Regions from separate parts of the Homo sapiens genome. Here regions 1 and 3 are each linked to region 2. Evidence: fine-mapped expression QTL. A gene starts in region 2. Each other region holds a variant in brackets. All regions are shown on one strand. Distances are between the middles of the regions. Region 1 overlaps ARIH1 (ariadne RBR E3 ubiquitin protein ligase 1). Region 2 holds the start of ARIH1 (ariadne RBR E3 ubiquitin protein ligase 1). Region 3 overlaps ARIH1 (ariadne RBR E3 ubiquitin protein ligase 1).

Region 1 (5,377 bases), 69 kb after region 2:
CCTATAATCCCAGCACTTTGGGAGGCTGAGGCGGGCAGATTACAAGGTCAGGAGTTCGAGACCAGCCTAAACAATATGGTGAAACTCTGTCTCCACTAAAAATACAAAAATTAGCTGGGCGTGGTGGCAGGCGCCTGTAGTCCCAGGTACTTGGGAGGCTGAGGCAGGAGAATCGGTTGAACCTGGGAGGCGGAGGTTGCAGTGAGCCGAGATTGCACCATTGTACTCCAGCCTGGGTGACAAGAGCGAGACTTTGTCTCAAAAAAAAAAAAAAAAAAAAAAAATTAGTGAAAAAATTATATAAAACTGTAATCAACTGGGAAGAGCTTTAGGAAGTTCTGACCAAAACCAAAGGGATGATCAATGTATTATTTAAGTTTTATAAATTAAGAAATGTATTTAAGTATTAATTACATAGGCCACTCCTAGTAAAACTAAATTAGATTTTAGTAATTTCCAAATAAACATTGTGGAGTCAGGGGTGAATGGACCATATAATAAATACAGATCAGAACAAATACATGAAACTTTGGTAAAAGAAAAAGATTTCTGGGCCTACTACCCCCAAGAATATGAGTGGATTTTTAGCTTCCCACTCATATTTCATTTAAAATACTTAGCAGTATTTGAAAGTTCCTTTGGTGGCTTCTAGAATGGATCAAAAAGCTATAAACTCCAAGCCACATGTAGTGGTGTGCACGTATAGTCCCACCTATACTCAAGAAGGTGAGGCGAGAGGATCTCTTGAGGCCAAGAGTTCAAGGCTGTATGCTATTATTGCATATGTGAAAAACTGCTGTGCACCAGCCTGGGCAACATAGTGAGACCCTAACTCATTTTTTTTAAAAAAGGTATTAACTCCAATATACGCTATTTTTAAAAATGCTGCAAACTCCAGTACATGCTATCTAAAGCACAGGAATTCAGATTGATAGTAAAAGTGTTGATGTGATCGGACCCAACACCAGGCTGTGGGGGCGACAAAGTCCAGCGGAGTCAAAGGAATGAGAAAAGACAAGAGACAAAGTGGGACCAGGGGGCCAACGCTAGTATGGAGGCTGCGAAGGCCTGGAGCTCTGGGAGCCCACGCTATTTATTGGTGATCAAACAAAGAAACAGGTGGTGAGGATGTGGGGGTTAAAAGGAAGCGGTGTATCAAGCGAATGAGCTACAGCTGTGAGGGTTTAGCATTTTCTTTGAAACATATGGCTAGTTGAGATAATGGGAGTGCTAGAAGTAAGGAGCCAGCAGTCTAGCAGGCATGCAAGCCCTGCCTCAGCTTCTCTCCCGACACTCAGCTTTTCTCCCAACAAAAAGAACTTGAAATACCTGAGAATAAAGTTACTGGAAGATGTGCAGGATCCACATAGTGAAAAAAAGTTATAAAACTATTGAGAGACTGAATAGGAATTGGAATTAAGTAAATTAAAAGATACTTTGTTCTTGGCTAGGAAGACAATATTATAGAGTCAATTCTTTCAGTCAGTTTACTCTTGATATAATTGTAGTAAAAGTTCCAAGAGGATTTGAAAAAAAAATTAATGATTGTACTTAACTTGAAAAAACAAATATGGAAGAACAGAGAAAATTCTGTGAGAAGAATGATAAAGGGATCTTTGTCAAATATTGAGAATTTATCGACTACAAGAGCAGACAAATTAGTGGAATAGAATGGAGAGTCCAGGAATAAACTTGTCTAAATAGGAAATTTGGGTATATAGTGAACAGATCAGTGGGGAGAGTTAGATTAGTCAGTTACTCTTTAAGAAGAAACTAAGTGCTTGTAACATGCCTGTAGACATTAAGGGCTCCAGGAATAATAAAGTAGTCCTCATGGGGTTTACATTCTAGCAGAGCAAACATAAAGAGTGATTACAGTTAGTAATGTTGTAAGTGCTGCAAAGGACTGCAGAGTAACAATGGGATGTAATTCAAGGGAACCTTATCTAATGGGGGTGGAAGTGAGGAGCTGTCAGAGATCAGTTATTTGAGGAAGCTGGGTGTAAGCTGGAACCTAAAGGTGGGAAAAAGTGTTTCCAATAGATGAAACAACCCTTCAATAAGTGATTAGATTTTTGGATTGAAATGAAATGGAATCCTGGCTTTACTCCTTATTACGCAAAAATAAATCAACAGTTTTAATGGAAACAATTTAAAGGTGAGATCTAAATCATTAATGAATTTCCATTAAAAAATCTTTGGGTATAGAGGTCTTTTAAAGTGTGATATGAACTGCAGAAATCACAGTGGAGTAGCACGATAAATGTGCCTACATAAAAATTTTAAAGTGGTAATTAAACACTATTAAAGAAGGTTGAAAGACAAGAAAGAAATGAAAGAAAGCAACCCATGAAACAAAGATTTACTCTTCCTCTTTGCATACTGAACTTAATAGGGAATAAGATCACCACAGAAAAATGTGTTCACCTTCACTAATAAATAAATAAATACAAGTTAAGTCTAGGTATTTTTCCCTATCTGATGGGCTAAGATTTTAATCTAGGATTATTTATATGTGGCACATTTAAATGTCCTTCAGAATAACATTGGTTGGATATATTATAGTAAATAACTACAGTGGAATATTGTGCAAAAATGAAAAATGTAGACATTTAAAGACAAAGGTGTCTGTTAGATATTGTCTAGTGAAAAAAGCAGGTTATAAATCTGGACTA[G/A]GGTGTTACTTATATGAAATTAGGGACACATGTCTGTGTGGCTGTATACTCATAGAATGCTGTCTAGAATGTTAACCAAAGTATGAGAGTCATTAGTTCCCTGTTGTCAAATTTTGGATGACAGAAGTTTGTCTTGTCTTGGGAGCATGAATATTTTTATAAAACAAGGTGTTTAGCTGGTTTATGAATTGATATTTAGTGTTAATCTCTTATGCTTTCAGTTTTTCAGGTAAAACTTGGTATTTTATATTATCTTTTTTTTTTTTTTTAAATTTGAGACAGTCTCGCTCTGTCACCCAGGCTAGAGTGCAGTGCAGTGGCACCATCTTGGCTCACTGCAACCTTGCCTCCTGGATTCAAGCGGTTCTCATGCCTCACCCTCCTGAGTAGCTGGGATTAGAGGCACCTGCCACCGCGCCCAGCTAATTTTTTTGTATTTTTAGTAGAGATGGGGTTTCACCATGTTGGCCAGGCTGGTTTTGAACTACTGACCTCAAGTGATCCACCCACCTCAGCATCCCAAAGTGCTGGGATTGCAGGTGTGAGCCACCGCGGCGCCTGTAATCCCAGCTACTCGGGAGGCTGAGGCAGTAGAATCGCTTGAACCTGGGCGGCAAAGGTTGCAGGGAGCCGAGATGGCGCCACTGCACTCCAGTCTGGGCGACAGAGTGAGACTGTCTCAAAATTGTAGGAAAGCATTTGATTTTCTGCTTTAAATATATTCTGATTATCTGAATCATCAGAGACATTAATTTTCTATTTGTATGAGTTCCTGACAACTTTTAACTTTCTGATAATCCTCCTTTTTATAATGTGTTGGCATTTCGATTGATAATATGATTATTTCATTGAACTATGCTGTAGTCAAAGTATTTATAAAAAAGATATTTATTTATTAGTCTTAGGAGAAGTGATATGGTTTGTTCTCATTTGAATGATTTTTCTGGAGGTACAGTAAGATATAGTAGCCTTTGACACAAAGCCTAAACAAGACCTTAATTAAAAATATTGGAAATTTCTTTTGAGTATTGATTACTTTTAAAATTGAAAATCTCCTGTTTGTATATAAAGAGCATTATAGTTACTGTAATCTGGGCTTTACAACCCAAAAAGTAATTGACCAGATTGCACATTAATATTTTTGCTGGTTATATTGGTTTTACAGATTGAAAAGTTTTTTTTTTTTTAATATCTATTGCTTTTCCCTTTTGAATAGTAAGCTGTTTCAGGAGGCCAGGGAACATGTCTCATCTGAATTAATTGGAAACATTGTGCTAAGTATTTACTGTTATCTTAACCACCTCAACCCACCTTAAGGTCTGCTCTACTATCTTCTGTCCAGAGGTTTGCTATTTAGTTAAAACTCTAGGTAGTACTTGGCATATATATACTCTTGATGTCTTAGATATGGAACTACTCTATATTTAGATACATATTTTATGAAAAGCTAATATGTAATTTATTTTATATAAAATGTTTGAAGATACACTTCTTTGTTTTATTCCTCCTCCTTTCTCAGTAAATTAAAAATATTTCAAAATAATGTTTAGAAAGCAAGTCTATTATGTAAAATGAGACACGTAATAATTATATTTTTAAGATGATTTGTGCAGTAAGATAAATGCTTTACTGAAGCTAATATGTTTAAATTGCTTTAACTAAAATTATTAATAAAATGAATTCATTTGTATAAAATACAGCCTACCCATGTAAAATATTACTCTTCATAGGTACCCCAGCAACAGCACAACTTTAATCCTTAAGTTTTAGTTGCAGTACTGTTAAAATACTAATAGCTTAATTTCCCAAGATTCAGTTATTTAAAACCAAAGTTTAGGGGGAAAAAGGCAGCAAAACTCAGTCTACTAGTTTACATACATACACACACACACACACACACTCATATATATGAGAGTAGACTGAATTTTTGCTGTTTGCAATATATATATATATGCACATGTATACACACACCTTTATTTGCTATAATTTGTACCATGTAGCTTTTATTTCCTCTGAATAAAAAGGTTGTTATCTTGTTTTATTTTAATTCAACTTCTTGCTTTTCCCTATAGAAAGTCAGGTTTTTGGAGAGCTCTAACAGTGTGCAAGTTGCTGGGCTCTTATCCTTTCTGTTTAAATAATGCAGGTACTTTGATGGAAACCTGGAGAAGCTCTTTGCTGAGTGTCATGTAATTAATCCAAGTAAAAAGTCTCGAACACGCCAGATGAATACAAGGTCATCAGCACAGGATATGCCTTGTCAGATCTGCTACTTGAACTACCCTAACTCGGTGAGTATCTGGTAGTTTAAGGCTAGTGCTGACTTTGTATTTCAGAGGGTAAATCAACTTCCATTATTTAAACAAAGGAAAATTTGTGGGTCTGGGAGTAGTAACCTCTAAGCCATAACCTATCAATGTATTCAGTGTGAGGAAAGGAAGAAAAAGAGTAAAAGCTTGGTTCCTCTTACCTCCAACCCCCATTTGTTTTTTAAAGCAGCAACAACTTGTCCAAGTTGTCATTTATAGACCTAAATCTTTCTGGAGTTTATTCTATCACCATGGGAGAATTGTGTAATAGTAGGCAGTAAGTAGAATTCTTTCTCATCCAAATTAAAATAGATTTAAACTTTAAGTGTTTTTTAAATATCCAGAAACACTCATAAAATACCGTTAATACTATTTGCTAGGGAACTCTCAGAA
Region 2 (5,377 bases):
CCATCTGCTTCAATAACTTTTATCCTCTTCACCTTTATCCTATGCCGCTTCTAAACATTGCTGGTGTAAACTCTGGTAAAATTGTATCTCCAGCTCTAATTTTTCCTGACCTTCAGTCTTGTATCTTAGTTTATGGAACTGCCTACTCAACACCTCTACCCTGATGTCTAACGAGCACCTCAAATAACATGTTTCAGTGAGTGATGCCACCATTCACCCAGTCGCTCAAGCTCCAAATACAGTAGGCATCCTTGTTTCCTCCATCAAACCCACTGTCAAGCCACCAGCAAATATTTTGGCTCTTCTTTCAAATTCTATCTCAATCTGACCACTTCTTATCACCTCCACTGCCACAACCCTAGTTCAGGCTATTATCTACTTACCTGGACTACTGAGATAGCCTCATAATTGCTTTGTTTTCGTAGTCCATTCACCATAAAGCAGTCAGTTATCTTTTTAAAAACACAGATCATATAGTTTCACTCTTCTGCTTAAAACTCGTTAATAATTGCCACTGGAATAATGTAAACTTCTTAAGATGACCTACAAGGCCCCTACTGGCCCCCTACCTTGATCTGCTTTCTCTGACTTTATCCCTTAACACCCTCTTCTTTGCTCAGCATGTCTCAAGTCACATTGGTCCTGATATTTTCAAATTCCTCTGTGACTAAAAGTCACATGTTTTGAGAAGATGTGAAAGGGCAGGGCTGAAGTTTGAGGAAACTGCAAAGGTGTGAAAGAGTTGTCGAGAGTGGGAGAACAATCCAGAAAAATTTAATAGGATTGCTGGGAATTATTGAAGGTTGAGTTGTGCTTGGTGATTGAAATTAAGTAGGCTGGGTGTAGTGGCTCACACCTGTAATCCTAGCATTTTGGGAGGCCAAGGTGGGAGGATTGCTTGAGGCCAGGAGTTCCAGACCAGTCTGAGCAACATAGTGAGATGTATCTGTAAAAAAAAATAAAAAATTAGCCAGGTATGGTGGTGTGCACCTGTAGTACCAGCAACTCAGGAGGCTGAAGTGGGAGGATCACTTGAGCCCGGGACATTGAGCCTTCAGTGGTGATCGCACCACTGCATTCCAGCCTGGGTGCCAGAGCAAGAGTGTCTCCAAAAAAAAAAAAAAAAAGAAGAAATGTAGTAATAGAATACAGATGGCTATGCACATTTCTCTAATAGTGGTCAGCTGCTCCATTTATCAAAGTGGAGACTATGGATGGTAGGGTTCATTCAAGATAGGGGTACAATGAAAAGAAAGGTGAGGCAAAGGAGTTTAGGGTACTGACGAGTGTTACTGAATTTTTCTGTAGGTAATATCACAATGGAGACGGGGTGGACAGAAGTGTTCCTTGTGTCCATGGCTTGCCTTAGTTGTGGCAGCAATCTAGAATTGCTAAATAGAAACACTGAATCAAAGAACCTAGACCTGGCTGGGCGCTGTGGCTTATGCCTGTTATCACAGCACTTTGGGAGGCCGAGGCAGGTGGATCACCTGAAGTCAGGAATTCGAGACCAGCCTGGCCAATATGGTGAAACCCCATCTCTACTAAAAATACAAAAATTAGCCTGGGGTGGTGGCATGCGCCTGTAGTCCCAGCTACTCAGGAGGCTGAGACAGGAGAATCGCTTGAACCTGGGAGGCAGAGGCTGCAGTGAGCTGAGATCACCACTGTACTCCAATCTGGGCAACAGAGCGAGACTCCGTCTCAAGAAAAAAACAAACAACAACAACAACAACAAAAACCTAGACTACCAGTATTGAGGTTAAATGCTTTACTTTGTAAATCCTGAGGTTAAGAAATATAATTATCGGTATTTTAAAACTTACAAAATGGACAAATTGGAAGAGGCTTTTTAACATTATAATGGAATTTTTCACTTTTCAAAATCAATTTCCAAAGGGAACCTATAGGTTGAACAGTAAGATTTATCAACAAATCAGGGGTTTTGATTTTAAAAGGTTTTCAATCTGGCCAATTCTTCAGATTATCTCAAGAGGGAGCCTTCTTATGCCTCTTCTTCCTTCATAACACTTCTCTGGCTCGCATGTCCTGTTTGCAAAGATTTAAGCCCACTCTTAGGCATAAAATGCTCTTAACTGACATGACCCCTGACTAACTTGCCTAATATTTTGCCATGTACCCTCCATGCACTTTAAGCTCCCCAAACTATTACTTACTTGACACCTTCTGCGCTTTTGCTTGTTCTCTGCGGCTAGACCATCTTCCCTACCTTCTCTGTTGAACTCCTAGCCATTCATCAACACTCAGCTCACATAGCACACTTTCAGATGAGATTCAAGCATTATCTCTCTGGCTACATTTGGCCCTTGTAGATATTTCTATTATTGCCTGTATTTTGTTGAAGCATTCATGTCTTTTATGTACTACATAGTACATAATATATCTACATTACAAAGCATTTTTATGATTCATGTTTTGGGGCATCCAGCGGTTAAAATAGGGCAAGGGTTATGTGGTCTTGGCCAGGTCCCTTTTCCTTTCTGAGCTTCAGGTTCCTCAGGTATAAAATGGGTACTATGGCTCCGTGAAGATGAGACAGAATATATGTAAAGCCCTTACACAGTGCTCAATTCATGAAAATCATCGCTGTTTACATTGTTTAGGGCCCTCAAGAGGCGCTCTTGTCAGCGGGGTGGAGGAAATGCCTCTTTAAAATGACGTCATTATAGGAGACTTAAAAACCACTGCACGTCTGTACAAGTGGACAGAATCACACAGCTACCTAAAGTGGGTTCACCTGTCATACAGTTTAGAGGTTCCACTTACAACAGGTTTCCATCAGTAGCCAAAGCAACAGAAATTTTAGCTTAACGGCTGAGGGCTTCCGGGATTACCGCAGGGCGGGCGGGAAGCGCCTTTCCGCTCCGGAGGGAAGGCCGCGTCCCCAAGGGACTGCCTAAGTGGGCTGGATCCCTATGGCCTGCGGCAGACACCACCACGTAGGCGGTCCAGGGGTCCCTCTCTCGGTGACTGGTGACCAGGAGGCCGCAATCTCTTCACATAAAAGGTCTACGGGTTTCCGCTCGGCCCTCACAGCGGCAGCGGATCGAACCAGGAAAGCAATTCCCGCTCGGCTCCCCTCGGGTCCCAGGCCCAGGAAGGCCGGGCCGTGGGGTCTCCCCGGGCTCCACGCAGGGGCGGTGGGGCGGGGCGCAGTGACGCAAAGAGGAGTGACGCGACGACGCAGCGCGACGCGGTGACGCACGCCCCTTTGTTGGCTCAGTAGCGATAGCAGCGGCCGTGGAGGTGGCGTTGGGGACTGTTTTCTCTCGGAGGCCGGAGCGGAGCCGCGTCTGACTGAGGCGGGCAGCAAGCGGCCCCCTCGCTCCCTCCCTCCCTCCTCCGCGCCCTCCCCGCCGCCACCAGCCGTCAAACGCCAACCGCCGCTCCTGGGGAGGAGCCGCGGCTCGCGGGGCCGGAGCCAGGCCTGCGTCCGGACATCAGCCGGAGCCGGAGCGAGAGCCGGGGCCTCGGCGTCCCCGCCCTCTCCCCGCCTCGGCCAGCGTCCGCCGGGCCCCCGCGCGTCGCGCCATGGACTCGGACGAGGGCTACAACTACGAGTTCGACGAGGACGAGGAGTGCAGTGAGGAGGACAGCGGCGCCGAGGAGGAGGAGGACGAAGACGACGACGAGCCGGACGATGATACCCTGGATCTGGGCGAGGTGGAGCTGGTGGAGCCCGGGCTGGGCGTCGGCGGGGAGCGGGACGGACTGCTGTGCGGGGAGACGGGCGGTGGCGGCGGCAGCGCTCTGGGGCCCGGCGGTGGCGGCGGCGGCGGCGGCGGCGGTGGTGGTGGCGGGCCGGGGCATGAGCAGGAGGAGGATTACCGCTACGAGGTGCTCACGGCCGAGCAGATTCTACAACACATGGTGGAATGTATCCGGGAGGTCAACGAGGTCATCCAGGTGAGGGTGGCCGCCGCGCCAGCTGGACCGGGCCCGACGGGGGAGCGGATTCAGGCGGCACGCGCGGTCCCGAGGGACAGGCCTGGGCCTGGTGCGCAGCCTAGCCCGGTGCCTCCCGGCCTTGTCTTCTCCGCTGCCTCTGCTGGGGATAGAGGGTGTCGAAAGCAGAGGTTCGCCGATTAGCCGGGTGTGGGGAGGTGCGCTGGGGGCGGTGCTTCCCAAGTCCTGCTATGGCGGAGGCCTTCGGTCGCCTAAGCCTTCTCTTGCGGGCAATTTCTGCCAGTCCCTGGGCCGGGTGTCCTTTCTCTGGCCGGGCGATCGCCTACTGGGGCGGGGCGGAGGAGGTGGGGTGGAGAAGAGGAGTCAGGAAGAATTGGGCCCTGACGGGACTTACCCCGGCCGTAGCCTCATTTGAGCACTTTTGGAAGGGATTAGAGTAGGCCTAAGAGCAGCTTGGTGTACAGTTGCCCCAAGTGGGCACCAGTTAATAAAGAAATGGATCTTGGCAGTCTCAAGTGCCTACTTAAAGGTGGGGGAAGGGAAGTATTTCTCGGAAGAGGTGCTGATGGGCCTTCTTTTCAGATGGTGAGGCTTCTGCTTACATCTTTTTTATGTCTTTGCTGTTTGGGACCTAATTGCTACTTTTTCTAGTCGTAGCAGATGACTTGCTTGAAGCTGTTGGAATAGTTACTGCATATTGCATACCCTTCCTTGTAGCTAAAACAACAACAAAACGCAGTGTTGTCTAATATTGGACAAGACTCTATTGTGAGTTAGAAAGCAGAGGTTTTCTGCTTGTGAACTCCTTTCTCTGATATTTTCTATTTTGTGGTAAGTTAGGCTTGGTGTAAGTTGATAACCACATCTCATTTAACCATGTGCGTCAGATTTTGCATTTTTGAGCTTTAGAAACTCAAAAGTTTTCATTTGGGGAAAAAAAAAACCTCAGTTCTCCTGAGGAGTCAGGGATATGGCTGAAGAATAAAAATGAAGCTTGATTCAGTGCAATTTTTAGAAAACCTGGAAGGAAACATATATGAGCAGCAAGTTACTATTGCCTCTTTTATCAGTATTATTTCTTTTTTGTTTAACTTAAATTGGTTGGCTAAATATTCATTGACAAATTAGAAGTATGTCACTGTCAACTCGTTGACTTTCTATTATTAACTGATTTTTATAGTATTATAAGTAACAGTTTTAAAAATTGAAGCATCTATTCAGGCACTGTTTCAATACAGTGTTTTGCATAATAGAAAAATCTCTGATATCTAGTGCCATTACTAAATAGTGGAAGTCTTCATTTTTAATCTAGAGAACACAGTCTAAGAAGGAAGTTGAGGATTGTAGAAGATAATTTTTTGTTTGTTTGAGACGGAGTCTTGCTTTGTCGCCCAGGCTGGAGTGCAATGGCGCAATCTCTGCTCACTGCAACCTCCGCCTGCCGGGTTCA
Region 3 (5,377 bases), 120 kb after region 2:
TTGCTTATCTTACATTAGACTTTTTCTTAAGCATTTGATTTTTAAAATATTTTTGATTTTCTTTTCTTTTTCTTTTTTTCTTTTTTTTTTTTTGAGACGGAGTTTTGCTCTTGTTGGCTAGGCTGGAGTGCAGTGGCGCGATCTTGGCTCACTGCAACCTCCGCCTCCCGGGTTCAAGCAATTCTCCTGCCTCAGCCTTTTGAGTAGCTGGGATTATAGGCACACACCATCATGCCTGGCTAATTTTTGTATTTTTAGTACAGACGGGGTTTCACCATGTTGGTCAGCCTGGTCTCGAGCTCCTGACCTCGTGATCCAACCACCTTGGCCTCCCAAAGTGCTGCCATTACAGGCGTGAGCCACCGCGCCTGGCTAATTTTCATTTTTAAGTTGTTTGCTGCTAGTATCTAGAAATACAATTGATTTTTTGTTTGTTTCTTTAGAGATGGGTCTCACTATGTTGCCCAGGTTGGTCTTAAACTCCTGAGCTCAAGGGATTCTCATGCCTCAGCCACCCAAGTAGCTGGGACTTTATTCACGTGCCAGTGTGCCTGGCTGATTTTTGTATGCTGATCTTGAATCGTGCCACCTTGCTAAATTCATTTATTCTAGAAATAGTTCTTGTAGACTCCGTAGAGTTTTATATTAAATAGATACACAACAGTGTAGTCTGCAAATAATGTTTTTACTTCTTTTTCTGATTTTATGCCTTTTCTTCTTTTTTTTTTTTTTTTTTTTTTTTTTTGTCTTTCTCCACTGGCTACAATATCTAGTGCAATGTTTAACGTGTGGTGAGAGCAGACACCTTGCCTTGTTTTCTTAATCTTAGGGATAAAGATTTTAATGTTTCATCACTAAGTATAATGTTAACTGTAAGTTTTTCACAGACCAGCCCAAAGAAGTTCCTTTCTATTCCTAATTTGTTGATAATTTTTATTAGGAAGGGTTATTAAATTTTGTGAGATGCGTTTTTAGCTTTTAATAAGATTATTATGTATTTCTCTTTTTATTTTGTTAAGATGGTATGTTACAGGGGTTGGCAAACTGTGGCCCATGGGCCAGATCCAGCCCATGGACAGTTTTGTTGTTGCTGTTTTAGAGACAGTCTCACTCTTTTGCTCAGGCTGCCAGGCTGGAGTGCAATGACATGATCATAGCTCACTGCAGCCTTGAGCTCCTGGACTCAAGCGACCCTCCTGCCTCAGCCTCCTGAGTAGCTAGGAATACAGGTGCATGTCACCACACCAGGCAAATTTAAGAAATTTTTTGTAGATCTTGCCGTGTTGCCCATGATGGTCTCAAACTCCTGGCCTCAAGCAATCCTCCTGCCTTGGCCTCCTACAGTGCTGGGATTAGAGGTGTGAGCCACCACACTTGGCTCTCATGGACTGTTTTTGTTTTTGTTTTGAGACAGGGTCTCTGTCACGCAGGCTGGAGTGTGGTGGCATGAACGTGGCTCACTGCAGCCTCAACTTTCTTGGCTCCAGCAATCATCCTGCCTCAGCCTCCCGAGTAGCTGGGACCACAGGTGTGCGCTACCACAGCTGGCTAATTTTTCTTTTTCATTTTTGTAGACATGGAGTCTTGATATGTTGCCCAGATTGATCTGGAACTGCTAGGCTCAAGTGATCTTCCTGCCTTGCACTCCCGAAGTGTTGGCATTACAGGCATGAGACACAGTGCCCAGCCTATTGCAGTGTTTTTTGTTTTTTCTGTTTTTTTTTTTTTTTTTTCATCTTTGTTTTTGTTTTTTTGAGACTGAGTCTTGCTCTATCTCCCAGGCTGTGGTGCAGTGGTGCAATCTGCAACCTCCGCCTCCCAGGTTTAAGCGATTCTCCTGCCTCAGCCTCCCAAGTAAGTGGGATTATAGGCACATGTCACCAAGCTCAGCTAACTTTTATATTTTTAGTAGAAACGGGGTTTCACCATATTGGCCAGGCTGGTCTTGAACTCCTGGCCTCAGGTGATCTGCCCACCTTGGCCTCCCAAAGTGCTGGGATTACAGGTCACTAGGCGTAGTAGGGCTACTACGCCTGGCCCTACTGCAGTTTTTAATAAGAGATGAGTTCTCTCAGCTTTTGTCTATAAGAGAATGTCCTTACTTTTATTTTTGAGGGGTATTTTAGTTGGATATAGGACTCTATGTTGACCTTTTATTTCTTCTTTCAGTACTTTAAAGAAGTTATTTTATTGTACTCAGGCCTCATTTGTTTCTGGTGAGAAGTCATTCATCATTTTAATTTTTATTTCCTTTCCGTAATGTGTGGTTGTTCTCAATGGCTGCATCTGTGCATTATATTTACTTTTCAGTAGATTGACTAGGGAATGTCTAGGTATGTTTTTCTTTGTATAGAGTTTACTGAACTTCTTGGATCTGTGTTGATGTCTTTCATTAATATTGGTTCTTTCTTGGCCGTTATCCGTTTACATTTTTCTCTTGTCTCATACTCTCTTGCTTCTCCTCTTCTTTGGAGATTCTAGTTACATGTATATTAGATGATTTGATATAAACCTACAGATCTCAGATGATTTTTCCCCTGCCCTGTTTTCTTTTTGTTTTCAGTTTGGATACTTTCCATTTAACCATCTTTAAGTTTTTTGATGCTTTCCAATGTTAACCTGTTAAACTTGTTTATTGAATTCTCCATTTAAAAATTTTTATTTTTAGTTATTTATGGATACATAGTTGTACTGAATTATTCATTTCTAATATTTTTATTTCTAGCATTTCATTATATTTGTATAGTTACAATTTTCTGCTGAAATTTCCTATTTCTTCATGCATGTTTTCCACATTTTCCATTCTACTTTTTAGCATTTTAATCAGTTATTTTATTGGGTTTTTTCTGTTTTTTCTTTCATTTTTAATCAGTTATTTTAAGGATCCAAACTGATAATTCAACATCTGGGTCTTTTCTAGTTCTGCTTCTATTGAGCCCTTCCTCTCCCTTACCATGAATCTTATTTTCTTGCTTTTGCACGTCTTGTATATTTGATTGGATGATGGACGTTTTATGTT[GA/G]AAAAAAAAAGAAATTGAAGAAAATGTTTACTTCCAAAACAGAGCATGCCCTTTGTTTTTTTTTCAGGCCACTTGAATGGTGGCTCAATCTGATGTATATGAATTCTAGACTGGGGCTTCACTGCAGTTTTAGTTTGATTCAGTTTGCCTCTAGCTTCAAATATTTGAAGGAACGTAGAATCAGAACTCTCATATCACCAGGGCCTGAGTTTTGGGCATTGGCAAGATTCCAGAGATCTGACTTTGCTTCATAGCTAAGCCACCAGCTTTTATCAATGTGGGAGATCTTTCCCTACTTTACAACCTTGCTGCCAGGATTTTTTTTTTTAATCAATGGGCTGGGGATAGGAGGATCTTTCTCAGCTCTCATGTGTGCCCTGCCCTTTTGTAGAGGAATGCCCACAATGCCTAGGGGATGGGTTTCTCAGCATTTCTGACCCCATTTAGGCTCCAAGAGTGCCTCTGTTGGATTTCACAACAATCCTGCCTCCCCTTTCATTTTTAAAGGGTATTTTGCCCTTGGGAGAAGTCAAGCTCTCTCAGCGTTCCTTCTATTATCCACACCTTTAGTGTACTACACCTTCCTGTACCTGGTTATCATCTAAGGGGTAAGATTGGTGGGAAGCCTTCCTCTGTGGATTTGGGTCATCTAGGTTCTAATGTCAAACCAGCCTCCAAGGGGTTGTGAAAATGTTGTTAAATTTCAGCAGGTTTCTCTTTTCTCCCCCCTGTAGTATTCCTCTTCCTACCATAGTTCAACTAGGAATAACAACAGCTAGGGGGTCTCTTCTCTCCTATGAAGGACTTGGCACTTTCTGGAGTTTGGATCATTTAGGTTTCTTTGGTTTTTGTTTTTATTTTGAGACAGGGTCTCACTCTTACCCAGCCTGGAGTACAGCCTGTAGTGATCTCAGCTCACTACAACCTCTGCCTTCCTGGCTCAGTTGATCCTCCCACCTCAGCCTCCTGAGCAGCTGGGACTACAGGCGTGTACCACCACACCCGGCTAATTTTTGTATTTTTTGTTGAGATAGGGTTTTACCATGTTGCCCAGGCTGATCTCAAACTTCTGAGCTCAAGCGATCTGCCTGCCTCAGCACCCCAAAGTCCTGGGGTTACAGGCATAAACCACTGCACCCAACCTAGATTTCTTTGTGTCCTTAGCTTTCTGATGAATTAAACATATGTTTTATTTTCTAGCTCATCTGGCCTTTTGTTGTTGTTTGCTAGAGTGGGAGGTATATTCCTTGTGACTTTGTTCATATCACTAGTGAATTTCAGAAGTAGGAGTTTATTTTTTTAATAAAAAATTTTTTTAGGTCAGGCACAGTGTCTCATGCCTGTAATCCCAGCACTTTGGGAGGCCGAGGCAGGTGGATCACCTGAGATCAGGAGTTTGAGACCAGCCTGGCCAACATAGTGAAACCCCAACTCTACTAAAAATACTAAAATTAGCCAGGTGTGGTGGTGGGCGCCTGTAATCCCAGCTACTTGAGAGACTGAGTCAGGAGATTTGCTTGAACCTGGGAGGCGGAGGTTGCAGTGAGCCGAGATTGTGCCACTGCACTCCAGCCTGGGTGACAGAGCAAGACTCCCTCTCAAAAAAAAAAAAAAAAATTTTTTTTTAAACACGTCTCACTGCCACCCAGGCTTGAGTGCCATGACATGATCATAGCTCACTGCTGGCTTGACCTTCTGGGCTCAAGTGATCCTCTTGCCTCAGCCTCTTGAGTAGCTGGGACCACAGTCATGTGCCACCATGCCTGGCTTTTTTTTTTTTGTAGAGTTTGGGTCTCGCTATGTTGCCTGTGATCCTCCCACCTTGGTTTTCCAAAGTGCTGGGATTAAAGGCATGAGCCACCATGCCTGGTTAGGAATGGGAGTTTAAACAATGGTTTTATTTACATATTTCATTAGCTAGTATTTTTTTCTTTTTTGAGACAGAGTCTGGCTCTGTTGCCCAGGCTGGAGTGCAGTGGCACGATCTAGGCTCATTGCAACCTCTGCCTCGTGATTCTCGTGACTCAGCCTCCTGAGTAGCTGGGATTACAGGCGCCCGCCACCACACCCAGCTAATTTTTGTATTTTTAGTAGAGACAGGGTTTCACCATGTTGGCCAGGTTGGTCTCCAACTCCTGACCTCAGTTGATCCACCCGCCTCAGCCTCCCAAAGTGCTGGGATTACAGGTGTGAGCCATCGCTCCTGGCCTCATTAACTGTTTTCAAAAGTAAAAGTACATGGATAATACAAAGTTAAATTTTGTAGAATCATAAAGAAAAGCAACACCTTCCCATCTTAACTCCCCTAGTGCCTCTACTCCCTCCACAGAGACAAATATCTTACCAGTTGGTTGTGT

What was found. PIP is the estimated chance that this variant, and not a neighbour inherited with it, causes the effect.
Region 1: its variant is the best candidate, but not a certain one, in a credible set for the expression of ARIH1 in whole blood (INTERVAL, PIP 0.84).
Region 3: its variant is the best candidate, but not a certain one, in a credible set for the expression of ARIH1 in whole blood (TOPMed, PIP 0.84).

Annotation. Positions count from the first base shown.
Region 1 is chr15:72,539,999-72,545,375 of GRCh38, forward strand. ARIH1 (ariadne RBR E3 ubiquitin protein ligase 1) reads left to right here. Exons shown (of 14, transcript NM_005744.5): 3 at 4,822-4,966. Among named protein-coding and RNA genes, the nearest start is that of MIR630, 45 kb to the right of the region's middle. RefSeq lists a silencer at 1,006-1,206. The variant G/A (reference allele first, on the strand shown) is at 2,676.
Region 2 is chr15:72,471,088-72,476,464 of GRCh38, forward strand. ARIH1 (ariadne RBR E3 ubiquitin protein ligase 1) reads left to right here and starts at 3,243. Exons shown (of 14, transcript NM_005744.5): 1 at 3,243-3,927. The coding sequence starts at 3,553. TMEM202-AS1 (TMEM202 antisense RNA 1) reads right to left here and starts at 3,152. Exons shown (of 4, transcript NR_135678.1): 1 at 2,788-3,152. RefSeq lists enhancers at 2,607-2,706, 4,157-4,366 and silencers at 2,947-3,286, 3,138-3,334, 3,377-3,606.
Region 3 is chr15:72,594,094-72,599,470 of GRCh38, forward strand. It overlaps ARIH1 (ariadne RBR E3 ubiquitin protein ligase 1), which reads left to right. Exons shown (of 14, transcript NM_005744.5): 14 at 1-5,377. Among named protein-coding and RNA genes, the nearest start is that of MIR630, 9.6 kb to the left of the region's middle. The variant GA/G (reference allele first, on the strand shown) is at 3,020.